2 separate regions of the Homo sapiens genome follow, and region 2 is linked to region 1. The links come from fine-mapping of genetic effects on gene expression. Tissue or cell type: whole blood. Region 1 holds a variant in brackets; the other region holds the start of a gene. All regions are shown on one strand. Distances are from middle to middle.

What was found. PIP is the estimated chance that this variant, and not a neighbour inherited with it, causes the effect.
Region 2: KLF7 starts here. The variant in region 1 is fine-mapped to the expression of KLF7 in whole blood (INTERVAL, PIP 0.97).

Annotation. Positions count from the first base shown.
Region 1 is chr2:207,073,903-207,082,010 of GRCh38, forward strand. It overlaps KLF7 (KLF transcription factor 7), which reads right to left. Exons shown (of 4, transcript NM_003709.4): 4 at 235-7,362. The coding sequence ends at 7,311. Among named protein-coding and RNA genes, the nearest start is that of MIR2355, 32 kb to the right of the region's middle. The variant A/C (reference allele first, on the strand shown) is at 3,283.
Region 2 is chr2:207,162,017-207,170,124 of GRCh38, forward strand. KLF7 (KLF transcription factor 7) reads right to left here and starts at 3,932. Exons shown (of 4, transcript NM_003709.4): 1 at 3,451-3,932. The coding sequence starts at 3,552. MIR7845 (microRNA 7845) reads left to right here and starts at 4,384; the gene lies at 4,384-4,482. RefSeq lists enhancers at 1,525-2,233, 2,234-2,942, 3,544-3,643, 3,651-4,359, 4,360-5,067 and 1 more and silencers at 4,134-4,773, 5,394-5,443.

The DNA.
Region 1 (8,108 bases):
CCCAGCTCACTTGCCTGTTCGGGAGATGTGGCAGCTGATGCTTAACACTTCAAAACCATTTTCCCGGCCCCTGCAGCACCTACTGTTCTCTTCACCTTGAGTTTTATGAGAGCAAGAACTTGATCACTCAGCTTCCCTTCCAAACCCGCTGTTACACTCCTGACACCTGTTTCCTGTTCAGGGACATGAGAAATGTCTGTGTCCATGCAGCAAATTCAGTCACACTAGCCACGGTTTCTAAAGTAAACATTTATTGGAAAGTTTCTTGTCAGATTCATTTGATTAGGGATAGAGGTTATTCACCACCGTATCCACTTCTGTAAGTCCAAAGAATGCAAAGAAAGCTTGACTACTGCTGTGTCCCATGTGACAAATGTGTTTTACTGCTGTTTCCTGTGAATGACACCACTTCTCTCGGGGAATCGCTGAGCTCGGGATGCTGAGGCGACACCACCAGCTGGGTTCTCTACCTTCCTCCTTACTGGTGATGCTCTTTCCTGGAAGTCGTGTGTGGCAGAGATTTTAGTACTTTTCTTTTCAGTTCTGAGAATTTTCCCTGGGGCTTTCATCTCCCTCTCTTCTCTGGGTCTGAAGCTGCTTGTATTTCCATCTAGTTTTTTGTACTCTCCACAGCCAGCTGGATTTCCTGGCTTCCGGTTACCCATTTCCTCCCCACTCCAACCACCTCCTGTCATTTTACTGCCCCCTACCCCTCACCTAAATTATTCCCTCTGATCTTTACCCTTCCTCCTTCACAGACTGCTTCAAAGATCCTTTCCCAATAGGTTCCTATTAAACACCATCCCAGAACAAACTGCCTCCTTCTCTCGCCAAATAAACCGCTTTCAATAAGCCTCTCCCAACCCCCTAAACAAATAACATCTTGTAATCTCTATCATTCTAAAATATTGCTTTTCATAATCTCCAACAATTGGCTCCCTTTTTCCCCTTGAAGAAATAAACTCAGTGACCCTTATTTGGGCATTGAGCTGCCTCAATGAAACTATAAAATACACACATACGCACACACACACACAACTTCCCAAACGAAGATAACCTAATACAACCTTTTGCTTTCCCTTTCTCCAAGAAAGAAAACTTTCACGAAGTATGTAAGTACCCACTTGCGTCTTTCGAAGATTTTTTTCCCCAGTGAAACAAGCTAAGGAGAAATACAGTAAAGTATTCCAAGGCCAAACACATTCTACTGTTTATTACACATATTACATTCTTAAATAAAAATGCGTCACATAACATTTTTTGCATAGATATCTTACAATATACCAATTTAAAAAAGAATTATGAAACAGACCAGTAACAAAAATAAATTTTTTCTTCATTAATAATTTTGTAACATTAACATACCACCATCATATAATACAAATAATAGTTTTAAATCTTAAGACTTTTGTACAGCAAAAAAACTTGACAAAGTAATATATTTATATATATATATATATAAAAAGCTTAAAAAAAATAAAATGTCAAAAAAAGGCATAACCGAGGGCTATAAGACTGGGTACTTCTGTGATATATTATAAATACCAGAGAAGGCCTGAGAGAATGTGACGGGGGGAGGCGGGGAAGGAGACGGGGCTGGGAGTAGGTCTCTCCAAACACACTTGTTAGACACATCTGGCAAAAAGAAAATGTATAGTGCAAAAATAAATTTATTCAAGCAACTGTTAAGAGGATAATAGAGATTTGAAAGAAAAGTTTCAGTGGCTGGGAAGTTGTGTGGGAGTAGGAAGTGGGAGAAGGAGCTTGACGCGGGGGCGGGTGGGGGCTTGTGGAAAGGAAGGGGAGGCTTCAAAAACATTAGACATTTATTTTTGCCTCTGTGTTAGCAAGGAGATCTTGGCCATTAACAGGTGTATTTTTCCTCCCTGGAATGAAGCAGAAGTGAAAGATAAGGAAATTAAACTAAGTCTGGGTTTAGATAGGAAATGCATGCTGGGAAGAAAAAACAAAAAGGTTGAGAACCAGCCAATAAGCCCCAAAGCCTTCAGGACCTAGGTTTGCAGAAATCGTTCTGCCTCCAGTCCAAAGGCCTAGGTTTAAAATGTCCCCTCTGCCCACCCCCAACCCCTCCCCGCTATGTGGAACTCCCAGTGTGGTTTCGATATACTGGCAATTATAAGCATCCATCCCCCCCAAAAGATATTAGGCACTGGTGGCTACTCCTCCGAAACGTCAGTAGCCTGTTTTCCTTCCGTGAAGGTACGACAGGTACATATGCGCATGTCTAGGTGCGAGCATATATACCACCCTCATTATGCTGACGTGGGGTCCATCTTATGGCAGTAGACAGAAGCTGGACTCACAGCAAGTTACGATTCCAAAGCTCACAGTTGAAAAAAAATTGTATAAACAGTCCCCAACAAAGAACATTATCAACCTTCCCTCATGACCACTGAGAGGGAGCCCTGTTTGAAAAGAATATCTTGTTTGGGATATTTGTGAAGTGATGGCCCAGGATTTCTCTCTCTGTTTTTGACACCTGTTTCCCGAGGACTTTTATGTTAAATGCAAAACACCTGAAAAATACAGTACTCTATTGGAAGGATGCACATAAGAAAGTTAACTGCAGCTTTATTTTTCCCTTTTCTGGGATCTATTAGGAACCAACAGAGGAGATTTAAGAGTGTTAAAAGCAAGAAAAAACCCTGAAGCCTCAGGCAGTTCGTCGTGGGAGGTCACGTTATTTACAAGAAGTTTCTGCTTCCTTTCACACATTTCTGTTGTTCCATCTCAAGTATTCCCAAAGATCCTCACTGAGGAAAGTAGGCCATCAAAGAGACATTGATGTATACTCAGGATAGGCCCTCTAGTTTTCAAACTGAGATATCACCATGTTCACCGAAATTTAATCCAGACACCCTGAATTTGAGTCCTCCCCTCCTGCCCCCCAACTCTTGCGCTTGGCAGGTGGCCACTTCCCGAAAATGCAAAGGAAAGCTTCCAGGAGTAAATTTCAATCAGGTTCTATTTACTGAATGTTCATTTTGGCAATGTTCTGGGTGCAAAATTGTAGCCAGAAATGCTGGCCCTCTTAAGATTTCAAAAAAATTCTAATAAACTAAAAAATGAACCTGATTTTTGTAGTTAAATGTGTTGCATCTTTATCTTACTTTGCCTACCTTCTTCCTGCTCCTAAAAGCAACTCATGCAAAAGAGAAGACAGAAGCACTTCCCACTTTTTACTTAACATTTTATGAAGTGACTTCCATAAAGGAAACCATTTTGAACCATCAAAACGAGTCACTGGGTTTTGTTCTTGCA[A/C]CTTGAGTTTCTTTTGGCTTTGCCATAAAATGCAGGAATAAAGGCAAGAGGCAATGTTCCGAATGCACTGGAAGAGCCATCCAAAAGCCCCATTTCTTTCCCCTTTGATGCAAATAGACATGGATAATCTGGAAAGCTTATCCCAAACAAAAGTCCTTATAAAATCTTCTCTGAAGCCAGAGAAGATTTTTTAAAACTAGGATTCAGTTCTGCTAATCAGGCATGAGGTTGGCTGTCCTTTTACCCTGTTATCATCAGGCAATCAAAGATGTACAAAGGGCACAAGAGGTGCAGGTGGAGAGGAGATGGCGTCGAGAGAAGAGGATATTTGAAGGGCTTTGCAAGGGAAAGCACACAGAGAGGAGGAAATGGTCAGCATGAAGTTCATTTTGGGGTCTCCAATATTTTTACAAAAATGCAGCTTTGTCATGGAATCTGAACATCTCTTTTTCTGGACATAATACTCATTACCACCAGGCATTGAGCTGAGCCATTAACCATGGGTGGGGCAGGAGGCCAGTAGCTAGGAGCAGCATTATAATTTCAGGTTTCCATGTCTATGACTTACAGTCATGTGGCAGGAGAAAGAAGTATAATTTGAAATTACAAAAAAAAAAAATTGTCAGTGGCTTAGAAACTCTTTTTCTACATGAACAAATCTGAACCCTGGATAAAAGCGTGCTTGTTAGGACACCACCAGAAACACCAGGCCGGGTTTTTCCTTTCAAATTTGGGATCCCCTGGAGGGTTAGGAGGTAACAACTGAAATGAGAAAGGGGTTTAATGTGTTTCAAATGTCCATTAATGCACTGTTTTAAATAACCAGTCCTCTTGGGAGCAAAATGTCTTCAGGTTACTTCTTGGAAAACCTGCTCGCTCTAGCGGCTCTTAGTAACCATCTCTGCCACTGCAGAGGTGATGGACGTTTTATTACAAATCCATTTCCAAAATGATCAGGACTGGTCATCATTCACAGGTGTCAACTCGGCTAAAGAAGAACAGTTTCAAAGCCATCCACTTAGCACCCACCAAATTCTTAGGCCAATTCTCACAGTCAACAAATGACTCTGAAGCAAGCAAGCACCACCATTGAGTTTCAATGCACCCTGCTCCAAGAAAGGTCAGGAGCAGATTACAAAGGACCTCACTGATACAAAAGAGAGAGAAATTACTGAACATTTCAGACACTGATGAGGACCAAAGGGCCTTTGTTCTGCCACATTCAAATGAGACCACAGATGAAAATAGGGAGCAAACAAGCAATGATTACTCTTTTGCATTTTTTAAACTTTCTTTTTAATAGAGCCTTGCATTGGTCAGTTCGAAAATTAAATTAAGTATTATAAACCCTTAATAATAGCATTCGAGAGGCAAGAGCAGCTCCAGCTTGGGAGAGAACATTTGCAAATCGTGGTGGCCATGGCTTAATGCCATCACTGGCGTGTGCGTGCATTCATGCTGGAGGCTGCTACATAAAGGAAAAGAAAGGAACCAACAGAATTCAGGGTGTCTAAAAGTTTCATCTAGTGCACTGACTGGAGGCGCTACAGTTTAATACAGCTGAGGTTCAAGGTCCCTCACACATCCTTCATCCAGGAAGGATGCACCACACATTCAAATATAATCCCATGGTACGCCCTGATGGACTGGCCACAAAATGCACTCAAATGCAGCAGAGAACTACGAGATTGTCAGCAAGCAGTGCTCCAGAAATTGTTTTTAAGTCATGTCTAGTTTTAAATCTTTGGAATAAAACTGATTTTTAATACCCTCCAACTAACATACATACAATTGCCTCCGGCAAATGGACAGATTTTGTGTGTGTGTGCGCGTGTGTGTTAACGGGTGTTCTTTCTTTTTTTTTCGTTTTGTATTATTTTGTTTTTTTTTTTGTTTTTGTTTTTGTTTTTTTTGGTCTAAATAGAAAAAAGGAAAAGGAGAAAGTAAATTCTTAGGGCCAGACCTCGAAATGCCCCAAGTGTCCAATTGGCAGCTATAGCATTTGTGAGGAGGTTCCTTTGCCCTCAGACGAGTAGTTTCAACATTTCAGTGAAAACAAAGGTTGCAGAAAGCTGAAAACCCAGATCTTGAAGGTTGCTGTCATATATGTGTTTGTGTTTCTTATATTATTTCCTTTTGACTTCAGTTTTGCATCCCAAATATGTATGGGGTGGCATTTTAACAGTCAATGAGTCAAACAGTCAAAGGAGGACAGGAGGGGAGCCAGCTGGTAGGAGGGAGCAGCAACCGTGTGTGGACCAAGCGCCATTTTTGTTTTATAGACGTGTCTTGAAGGGATGGTCCCAGAATATACAAAATATACAATCTGTCCTAATAACCACCCCGCTTGCTTGCATAGGCCATTTGATGGTCCTAAAGGCAGTCTTTGGAGTTGAGGCCAGTGCCAGCTAGCTAGGAATGCGGGTAGATAGAGACCACTACTGGATGTGTGAGTGTGGCATGACAAGTAAGGACTGTAGACTCCTTTGGAGTCAGCTTGCAGAGTAAATGTGAGGCCTCTGTTAATCCTGGGGGTTCTAGGTCACAAGTCATGGTGGGCCTAGCCAAAAAAAAAAGGAAAGAAAGAAACGTGTCTCTCCTTTTAGACAGCCCATGAGAGAAACACCTCAACCTTTTCCTTAAATGTCAACCCTTCACTCCCACAATGGCGTTTTAAATTGTGTATTGTAACACGTAGGGGAATAGGAGCTCAGTGGGCATGACAGAGAAGACAGGATGATCTTTTGTGAAGCCACTAGACTTGGGAGGCATCCTCAGTTTTCCCCACTCCTGGAAAGAGTGATATTTTTGGCTTTTTGTCAGGTCATAAACCAGAGTTAAATTAAATACGCAGCTGCCCTCTGAGACTAGCGACATCTATGCTGTAACTGGTTATGGGGTAGCAATGACACACAGCACAACGGTTGATCACTATGAGCTGAGGTCATCATGCCTCAAGGAGGATGAGAGAACTGTGATGTCCCATCTGACTGGCTGCTTCGAGAGCTGGACATCCAGGTGCCGAGAGAGTCCTGGAGAGGTTTAGTCCATGGAGAAAAGATAAAACATTTAAGCTTCCAAATAAGCTTTTCAAGTTTTCGTTAGCAAAAACGGAGAGATTAAAAAGAAAAAATCTAGCACTGGCAATAAGGTGAGGCTCAAGGGATATACTGTGATTTATCATCAAGGACTTTATTCTCTTGGCCACTTTGCAGTCATGCTAGAAGTTTCCAGAATCCCTAGTGCATATGGTGTGCAAAAGTCAAAACGTAAGAAAAGAAAACTCCTCCCTTGAGAGTGAAGTCTACAGAAATGCAGGCCAGAAAGGTGTAAGGTGTTATTCCAGTCTGCCGCCGCTAAGGCCGTTGGGATCGACGCGAAAGATCTCAATAGTACTAAGAACCAAAACCAGTCAACAGTTCTGTGAGGAAGTCTGACGCACGGAATAGTAGGACTTTTCACACACAAAGGACAAATAAACCAAGAGTTAATTTTGGCTACCAAACTGCAATTTGGTTTTCTAGGTCATTTTCCCCCAACTATTTAAAAAGAAACATTAGTGCTACACATATGCAACTTTAAGATGCTGGATTCTCCTATCAAGTTGCACTGAGAAGCAAGTGAAATAAGCCCCTCGGACTGCCGTCCACCTGCACAGACGTCACATCCATTTTCTTTGATTTCCATTGGCAACAGCGGGAAATAATTCCAATAGTGCTGAAGTAAGCAGCCAGTCTGCCTTGCTGAGTTCACCTGGTTTCCTTCTTCATCTTCTTCCATCTGGCTAGGGCAAGGCATAAAGAATAGACGTATATATTTTAAATATAGTTGAGTGCATGACAGTGTGTATGTGTGTGGGTCTGTGAGTGTGTGTATATGTGTGTGTGTGTGTGTGTGTGTACAGAGGTTTATAAGTGAGAACTTTCTTCTGCGAGGCAATGGGTCCCCGCCTGAAGTCCAGCCCCCTGCCTCATGGCGTTTCCTTTAGACACTAGCCGATGCCATGGCAACTCTGGCCTTTCGGTTTTTTAGATATGTCTCTTCATGTGGAGGGCAAGATGGTCAGACCTGGAAAAACACCTAGGAGATATAAACAACAAGGATATTAGAGAACTCCCAGCAAACAGCTTGACTTGCATCACTCCTTAGGAAATGATTTCCCTTACTTTAAACAGAGACAGTGCACATGCATTGAGAAACAGGGCCATGTGTTGGGAAGGTAAGTTTAAGGGACAAAATGTTTGGGTTTAAATCCTATCTCTTCCAATAGCTGTGTGACTCGGAGCACATTAACCTGTCTGTACTTTAATTCCTCCTCAGTAGAGTGGGGATAATTATAGCATTTACCTCATAGGTGGGTTGTGAGGATTAAATGAGATGATCTATGCAAGGTACTTAGAATACGGACTGGCACATCGTAGGATCTCAGTGCATGTTAACTGTTATGATCATAATTGTGATTATTAAAGAAGAATGGGAAAGTGCTTTTGAAACCTGTGTCATGCCTGCATACTGTAAATATAATAAAGAATAATTAGTCTATATCATCAAAGGGTGGAACTTTGAAATTTCAACACCCAGATTTCAACCCTAAACTTTACAATGAAAGCCTAGAAATACTGCTTGTGATACTACTTACAGGCTTATCAGACACTCTATATTCAAGTCAAAAAAAAAAAAAAAAAAGGATGAAGAAGGGTGCTCACAGTTATTGAGTATGTTACGATATGTAGGCACTATGCTAAGGGTTTTCCCAATATCACGCCATCCTCACCAACCCTCCATGGTAAGTATTCTCACGCTTTGTGTGTGTGTGTGTTGGGGGC
Region 2 (8,108 bases), 88 kb after region 1:
AAATAAGACTTAGATCATCACTGCTTGACCTGCACTCATGAAATAGCAGACTAGAGATAAAACATATAAAAGTTCTAAAAGTCTTTGTATATTCAAGAAGAAAATAAAAGCATTGTATCAAATTCTTTTTATTTTCCAAGTCAGCAGTGTGTCTAAAAAAAAAGATTATGATTTCTATTGGCAAAAAAAGTCATGAATGAGTTTCCCTTTACTCATAATCAAGTGGTACCCCATAAGAAACTCTGGTTTCTGTCCTACCCTTGACCTTTTCCTACTTTTGCTCAGACAGCTCTTGGAAATTTTCCTACAAGTTTTCAAAGCGCTTAAGGCTGGTAGTCTTAAGAATTGCGCGTCAGCTGAATTCTATAAAATAATAGACCACATAAGCACAGTGTAATTTACAGTTATATGACAGGCAGAAAGATGATGTTACTTGGGCCGAGTGCTTAAGTATGCAGTCAGAGCCCAGGAATGGAGAGCTGTTAATGTGTGATGTCCATTTGGATTTCAGAATTATACCAGCAACGATTATTTTCAGACTTGGAGCTATGTGGCTAAGGCATCATTGCCAGAAAATCCAATGTCAAAACGAGGATCTCCGTGACGAGAGGGAGCCCTGCCACAGTCAGTGACTTTGTCACAGGCTCACTGACTATTAAGCAGGACAATTATCCCATATCCTAAGTTTAAAATAAAATCCCCAAATTGTTTATCTTCAATTTTCAAACGTAAAAATGTTCTTGAGTTTATCATCGAAGCCACTCTTTCTCTAGAAACCAAGTCAGATTATCAGAGTCTCCACATTTTGCTCATCTCCATGAGCCCAGGTACATTGTTCACTTTAAGAAGAACATCTAATAATTACTCCTCATTTGACCTCTAAAATCTGATTACCCCAGAGCATAAAGAAACTTCTTCCTGTCTGGGGTTCTTTGCAGAAACCCTGTTGAGCTGTTTTGAGCAAAAGAGTCTCAAAATTTCATTATCCGATAGTTGATTTGGAACTAACAGTTGCATATCACCATCACCACCCCTTATACTCAGAAGCAGCAAGACGGTTTTGGGAGGGGGAAGAAGGAAGGGCTAGAGGTTAAAGGTTTTGTCATCAGTGTAAACCTATGGTCCTAGTCGCCTTTATATAGAGCAGTTGTGATTACGGAGTCCAGAACATAAAGCTCACTGGAGTGATATATTGTTTATTAGTGCTTCCCCACAAGCTATGCATCAGCATTGGCTATAAGCATGACGCTGAATAAGTTGGCTAAGGGTTTTAAGGTGAGAGTGGCTGGCAGTTGGAGAGGGTTAAGGCAAAAAATGAGGGGGTTCCGAGGGGTGAAAAATCCTTTGCCTGTAGAAACTAAACTAGAGCTTCCCTGAATGGGGAGGAGGCAGAGGAGCAGGGGGAGGAGGGGAGAAGGAAGAGCAGAGATGGCTTCTTAGGAAACAATAGATCTAATACATCCTCTAGTTGTCAAACCGATGATGTTTCTTTGCAGATCTAGAGTTTGTCCTGGATGGTCTAGCCAGATCTAGAAAAGCAGGTTTCCTGTGAAGAGACCTTCCTCCAAATCTGGCTTTACTACTCTGAAAACTTGAACCAAAACAAAGTTGCATGATTCATCAGTAGGGAACGTTCTAACAAATAAAGCCAACTTTCTTCCTTCTAACACTGCTTAACAGTTAGTCACAAACAAGGGCTGCCTTGGGCAGGCTGACTAAATCAACAGATTCCCTTCTCTAACCTGTCTAGACAGTTGTTAATATGCAACCGATTCCATACCAGTGGGCTGACAGTGTGAAATGAAGGCTATTTCAGAAGATTTTGGTTTAATTAGCATTGGAAATAAAAGGAAGAAAAAGATCCAGTGAGACCCTTCATGAGACACACTCTCGTTAAGGATAAGGAAAAGGATGCATTGAAGAAAGACTTTATTCTAAAAATATGTGAACTGTGTATGTGTTTACAGAGAGACAGAGTCAAGCATCTGCTAGCGTCCTTGGACAAGAATGCATGTGTGGACACAGAGACACCAGACGCCAATACCTGGAGGAAAACTCACAGCCTCTGACCAGAAGTGAACTAGCAACAATGGTACAGTTAAAGGATCCGCCTTGCCACTCGGCTCCTTATACCAAAAGCCAAACCTCTTTTGCTAAAGCAGAGACTGTTACATCTCAGCCTCAAGCTGGCAAATCCTGCTTTGGATCCCGGCAGAGGAAATTCAGCCGTTCATTAGCCTTAACAAGCTGCTGTCACTAAGCGAAGAAATTACACGAGCAGCCACACACCGAGCCTCTCACAGCCCTCCCCCCAAGGGCAAGCGGGTTTCTCCAGGACGGACTGTACAAGTTCACACTTCCTATGTGCAAATCCGGACTGTCTTCTTGGACTTTCCATGGTGCACACTGTACAATTTTTAAATACCCGTGTCCCCCCGCCCCCACCCACCATCTTTCCTGCAGAATGTCCCCTCAGCAGCTCCTAATCGCTGCTGAAAAAAACCACTGTTTCCGCAGCAGAGCCAGCACTTTCCACTGACCAGCACTTTCTTTATTCCACTTCACAAAGCCCAGTGAACTTGTCACCAGCCCCACTTCATCCTCCCTGGGACGGCTAGCCAACTTGGCATCGGTGCCCTTCAGCATCCTGGGAGTTTCTTAACTAGTCCTCTAAGACAAAGTCAAAGGCATGGAAGCACACATCAGCCTTTGTCCGAGGTTGTGCTGCCTAACTAGAGAAGGACCCTAAACAAAAAAGAGAAACAAGGACACGCATAGAGGGTGTTCTCTTTCTGGAGGGATCACACTGGGAAAACCTACAATTCATTGTCAGCCTCAGCTACATCTTCCCGTCCTCCTTGAGTATCTTTTGTCAGTGGGCTCTTCTCTCTTTTGCCTACCTTCTAATCTCAAAATCAAGCTCCTATTCTTTATTGACACTCGCTAATTACTGAAAAACACTCCGCTTTGCTCCTGCCCACCCTCCCCCGCCCCCCATCCGATGGTCATAAGCACCAGTTGAAACAGATGAACCTGATTTCAGGTATCAAGTGGGTAGAGCTCATGCATGCGAGAACGTGGTCCCTGTCAGCAATCGCTCCTAACACCCCAAACCACCTTCCCACCCGGCTCCTCCGAACCCCAGAAGTTCGGCAGGTCTCTGATAGGGGACAGCAAACCCGACAACGTGTGCGCAGGGATGTGTGTTGGCGACTGAAACGCAGGCAGCTCGCACCGGCTGCTCAGCTCGGCACTCTACGAGGTTAGGGGTGGGTGGAGAGGTAAGCGCAGATGACTGTTTCAGAAAACATTTTCAACAACAGACAGCCAAAAAGGAAGAAAAAAAAGTCAAACAAACAAACAAAAATTTCAACCCAGAGCCCACACCAACGCAGCCCCTGCGTCTCCGCCGCCACCACACGATTTACACAAGTAATTTAAATCATTCACCTGCTGCCAGGTCTCCTCCAGGGATGGTAAAGCTGAGAAGTAGCCGGTGTCGTGGACAAGTTGTAGCTCCTGGAATATACTATAACTAGCCAACACGTCCATGCTGCTGCTGCCGGGCAAAACGGGAGGCGAAACCCTCCCCCGAACACAGTTGGGGCTGTTTGTTTGTCAGTCTGTCTGGCTCACCCCCCAAGAAGGCAGACATCCAGTGGCCCTTTTGTTTTGTTTTGTTTCAGTCAACTAAAAAGGAAAAAAAAAAATCAATGCAGGAGAGGGAGAGAGGAGGTGAGAGAGGAGCGAGTGAGTGGGGTGGATGGAGAGAGGCATCCAGCGTGTACAGTGCAGACGACTGCCAGGAAAAGGGGACTTCTCCACGGGAGTAACAATTCCCTTCCAGGGCTCTAATCACTCCAGCTCGTGGATCAGGAAGGGGGATGCAAACTCACTGACACGAAGCTGCCATCTATTTCTGCAGCGCTGTTCGCTCCTAATGCAATCTTTGCTCTTTATTTTGGGAGGTTGCATTTTTTTCTCTCGCGATCGCTTCTCTTCCCCCCCCTTCCCTTCCCTCCCCACCCCCCACCCCATCCTTGCTAGTTTGTAGTCTTCCCCCTCCCTTTTCTCCTCCTCCTGCTCTTCCCCCTCCCCAAACTCCCTCCCTCCGTTCGGTTCTCCGCGCAGCCGTGGGATCTCGAGGAGGGCGTCCATTAGGCCGCGTGTGACCATGTAAGGTAAACAGGGGGCTCATGAAGTCACTGAGGACCAATGGGGAGCCCGGAGCAGAGCCTGGGGCGGGGCTTGGCCCTGGCGGCGGGCGCGGATTGGCACGCTGCGGATCTCCCTGCTGCCTTACAAGGCGGTGCGAGGCGAGCTATTTTTAGAGGGCTATATAAGGGGGCTGAGGCGGCCGCCCGGCGGCCGGGCAGCGCGAGCGCAAGGGACAGGGAGGGTCGTGGCGACACTCGCGCCAGCTCCCGGGACGGCTGGGCTCGGGCTGGTCGCCGACCTCCGACCCTCCACTAGATGCCTGGCAGAGCCCGGCGCGTCCGGAGCCCGCGCCCCTCAGAGGGAAGGGGTCGCGCGTCGCCGCGGCGGCCCTGAGGCTGACGGTCGGGAGGTGAAAGGCCGGAGTGCGGGGTCAGGACGCCTCCTGGAGGGGGCGCGGCGCAGGGGGCCGCGGGGAAGCCGCCGAGGGCGCGGAGCGGGAAGGAAGGACAGTGGCCACCCCGCCTCCGCCTGGGCACGGGGCAGGGACCCGCGCGAGGCGGTGCCGGGGAGGTCCTCACGTACTCAAAAACAAGCAGAAAAGGCATCCAGGGCCCCTTCCCGAACTCCCCACGGGCTGCCAGGGTGCAGAGAAGAAGCGCCTGAGGAGGAAGTGCCACACAATGGGAGAGAACAAAGGGGAGCGGAGCGAGACCGCGGCCTGCGCCCGCCCCCCGCTTGCGCACAGTCCCCGCCCCGCCCCGCGGGCGCCGCCGCCGCCGCCCTCCCTCCCGCGCCTCCTTCTGACCCCGAGCGAGAGACCTGGTCGGGAGTCCGGCGGCTAGAGTTGATTGCAAGGGGCCTGTTGCTCGACTGTGCGTTAAAGAGGCTAGAGGGAGCCTAGGTAGACGTGGGGCGCAAGCTGGAGCCGGCAGCTTGCGAGGGGGCCTTTACGTGATGAGGCTCACCATGGGGTCTCCAGCGAGGTGTCTGCAGAGCTTCGATGGTGAGAGGAGGAACTCGATTTCTCGTTTTCTGGAGTTGGGATGTAGACATAGAGAGATCTGTTACATCTGAGATGAAAACCCTGCACAATTCACGTTAGGGTTGGCCAATTGTTTGCTTGACCTTAAATGGTTAGTGTGGTTTAAGCTTCCCCAAAATGCGCTGTGAGCTGAGCTTCCACTTTTGGAATGATTGCAGAATTCGGTGCTTAAGAGATGAGAAACTTCGTTCTACCAGTAATGGAAGAAACGCTTCACCTTAATCACCCTCCTTGTCTTTCCCCTCCCTTTGACTATGTAGGACTCGATAACACAACATTTGAAAGATTCTACTCTATGAAATAAGCACAGATTGAAATTCAGTATTTGCCAAGGAATATTAAACATGAATTACTGGGATTGAGGAAAGCCTGATTTATTTACTTGTTAGTGTCTGGAATTCTGTTGGCCAGATTCATAGCATTCATTGTATGAGTATAATTGGAACATTTACTCTAATGTAGATGCAGATGCATCTGCAATTAGATGTGCAAGGACGCTGCCAGCTAACTAGCTGCACGACTTTGAGCGAATTACTGGGTCAGAACTTGTATCTACCCATCTCAGAAACAGAAATAGTGGGATCCGCGTTGTCTAGTTGTTATGAAGAGTCAAAATATCTTTGGTAACTCACCTAGCATAGTATCTGACACTATTAGGTGAATACTAAATATTAGCTATCATTGTCTCCCCACTTGAGCTATGTAAACTAATAGGACCTTTAGGAGAATATACTATTAATAGAATCTTGGAGATAGAGGAAAGGTAGAAACCCCTTGCTAGTTTGTTACAAGGTCTCCCCTTCTCCATGCTCTCCCCTGACCCCCATGCTATTTCAACTGGGGGGATGGGCAGGAACCATTGAGAAACACTAGGGCAAAAAACATGTTCATGAATAATAGGGGAAGGAAAGGAACTTGGGTATAGAAAACTAGAGGCAAAAGGTGAGGCAAGACCAACCATATAATTTGGTACTTGAGACTCAAGTGAACTTATTTTGTGTGTGTTACATTATAACAATTTTTGAATAAAATAGGACATATCGGTTAACGTGAGTTTGAAGATTTTACAAATAATAGTTCCCATTTATTAAGCACTTCGAATGTGCCGTATGCGCATAAACACTTTATATGCAATGTCTCATTTAATCTTAAGGACAGCCCCAAAGTATCCCCAACTTTATGGATGAAGATACCCACGCTTGGAAATACTAAGTAAGTTGGTCAAGGTCTCACAACCTGGAAGTGGTCAAGCAGGGGTTCAAATCCAAGAGCATCTGACTCCCCACACTGTTCTGTACTGAGCTTTGTATGGTGAAAAATGGGGTTCCTCAGCTTTAAGTCAGTGTGTGTTTACAAAAATTGCTTGGGTGGGGCCGGAGGAGGAGGCTTCCATTGAGACTTTTCCTATGTAACTATCAGCCGTCTGACTTGCAAAAGGACTCAACCAAAATTTTACAAAGCAAATACTGCAAACCTCATTATGGTCTTTGCTCCAAGCTTTGTAGAATATTTTAGATTCATTTTAAGAGATTTATGCAGCAAGGCATTCTGAAAGGCACATTTTCAATATTAGTTATATTTAGCTACTTTTTATACCCTAGAGACCCAAGATTCACATTGCAAAACACATGCAAGGTATCCAGATGTACAAAGTAATCAACAAATTAAGATCACAAGAGAACTTTGGCAGTTCAGCAAACCAAAATAAACTGCACTGTTGTAACTACCACTTACTGGTTGATTACCTTCTTTGTACCTAGCATTTTACACATACCTCTGATCTCCACAATCCTGTGAGGGAACTCTTAGTGCTCCATTTTTATAGATGAAGATACTGAAGTTTAGAGAGTGCATGTAATTTGCTCATTACCATGTGTCCAGTAAGTGGGTAAAAGCAGATTAGAATACAGGTCTGCCTCCAAATCGACTCCAAAATCTGTCTTCTCCACAAGTATTGCCTTGGGAGGTGTTCATTTTACTTCTAATAATGTCAATCTTTGGAAGTAATCCTATAGAAAACACCCTAGAGTAAATAATAAATTATCCCCCCACCCGGGGGGAGCTTAGAAATAAATGAGGATATTTTAAGAATAAAATAGTAAAAATTTAATATGTGAATACACACATTAAAGGCATCAGGCTGTTTCCACCAGTAAAGTTTTGCTTCATTAGTGTAGGAAGTCTTTATTATCCCAGTGTGATTAGTACTCCTCAAAGTAAATCTACTTAAAGCTGGGACCAAATTTCAGACCAATCAGTGAAGAAAGCTTTGCTTAAGACTTTATTTGAAAATAAAACTAAATGTTATTAAAATACATTCATTCTGTCCTATATGGGCATACCTCATTTTATTGTACATAGCTTTATTATGCCTTGCAGATACTGCTTTTTTATACAAATCGAAGGTTTGTGGCAACCCTGCTTGGAACAAGTCTTATCAGCACAATTTTCCCAACAACATGTACCCACTTTATGTCTCTGTGTAACATTTTGGTAATCCTCACAATAGTTCAAACTTTTTTTGTTATTATATCTGATATGGTGATCTGTGATCAGTTATTTCGGTTTTACCATTGTAATTGTTTTAAGGCACCATGAACTGTGCCCAAATAAGACATAGAACTTAACTAGTGTGTGTGTGCGTGCTAATTACTCCACCGACTGGCTCTTCCCCTCCTCTCCTCAGGCCTCCCTATTCGTTAAGACACAACAATAATGAAATTAGGCCAGTTAATATCCCCACTATGGCCTCTAAGTGTGCAAGTGAAAGGAAGAGTGACATATCTCTTTAAATCAAAATCTAGACATAAGCTTAGTGAAGAAGGTATATCAAACACCGAGATAGACCAAAAGCTAGGCCTTTACACCAAACAGTTGGCCACTCTGTGAATGGAAAGAAAAAGTTATT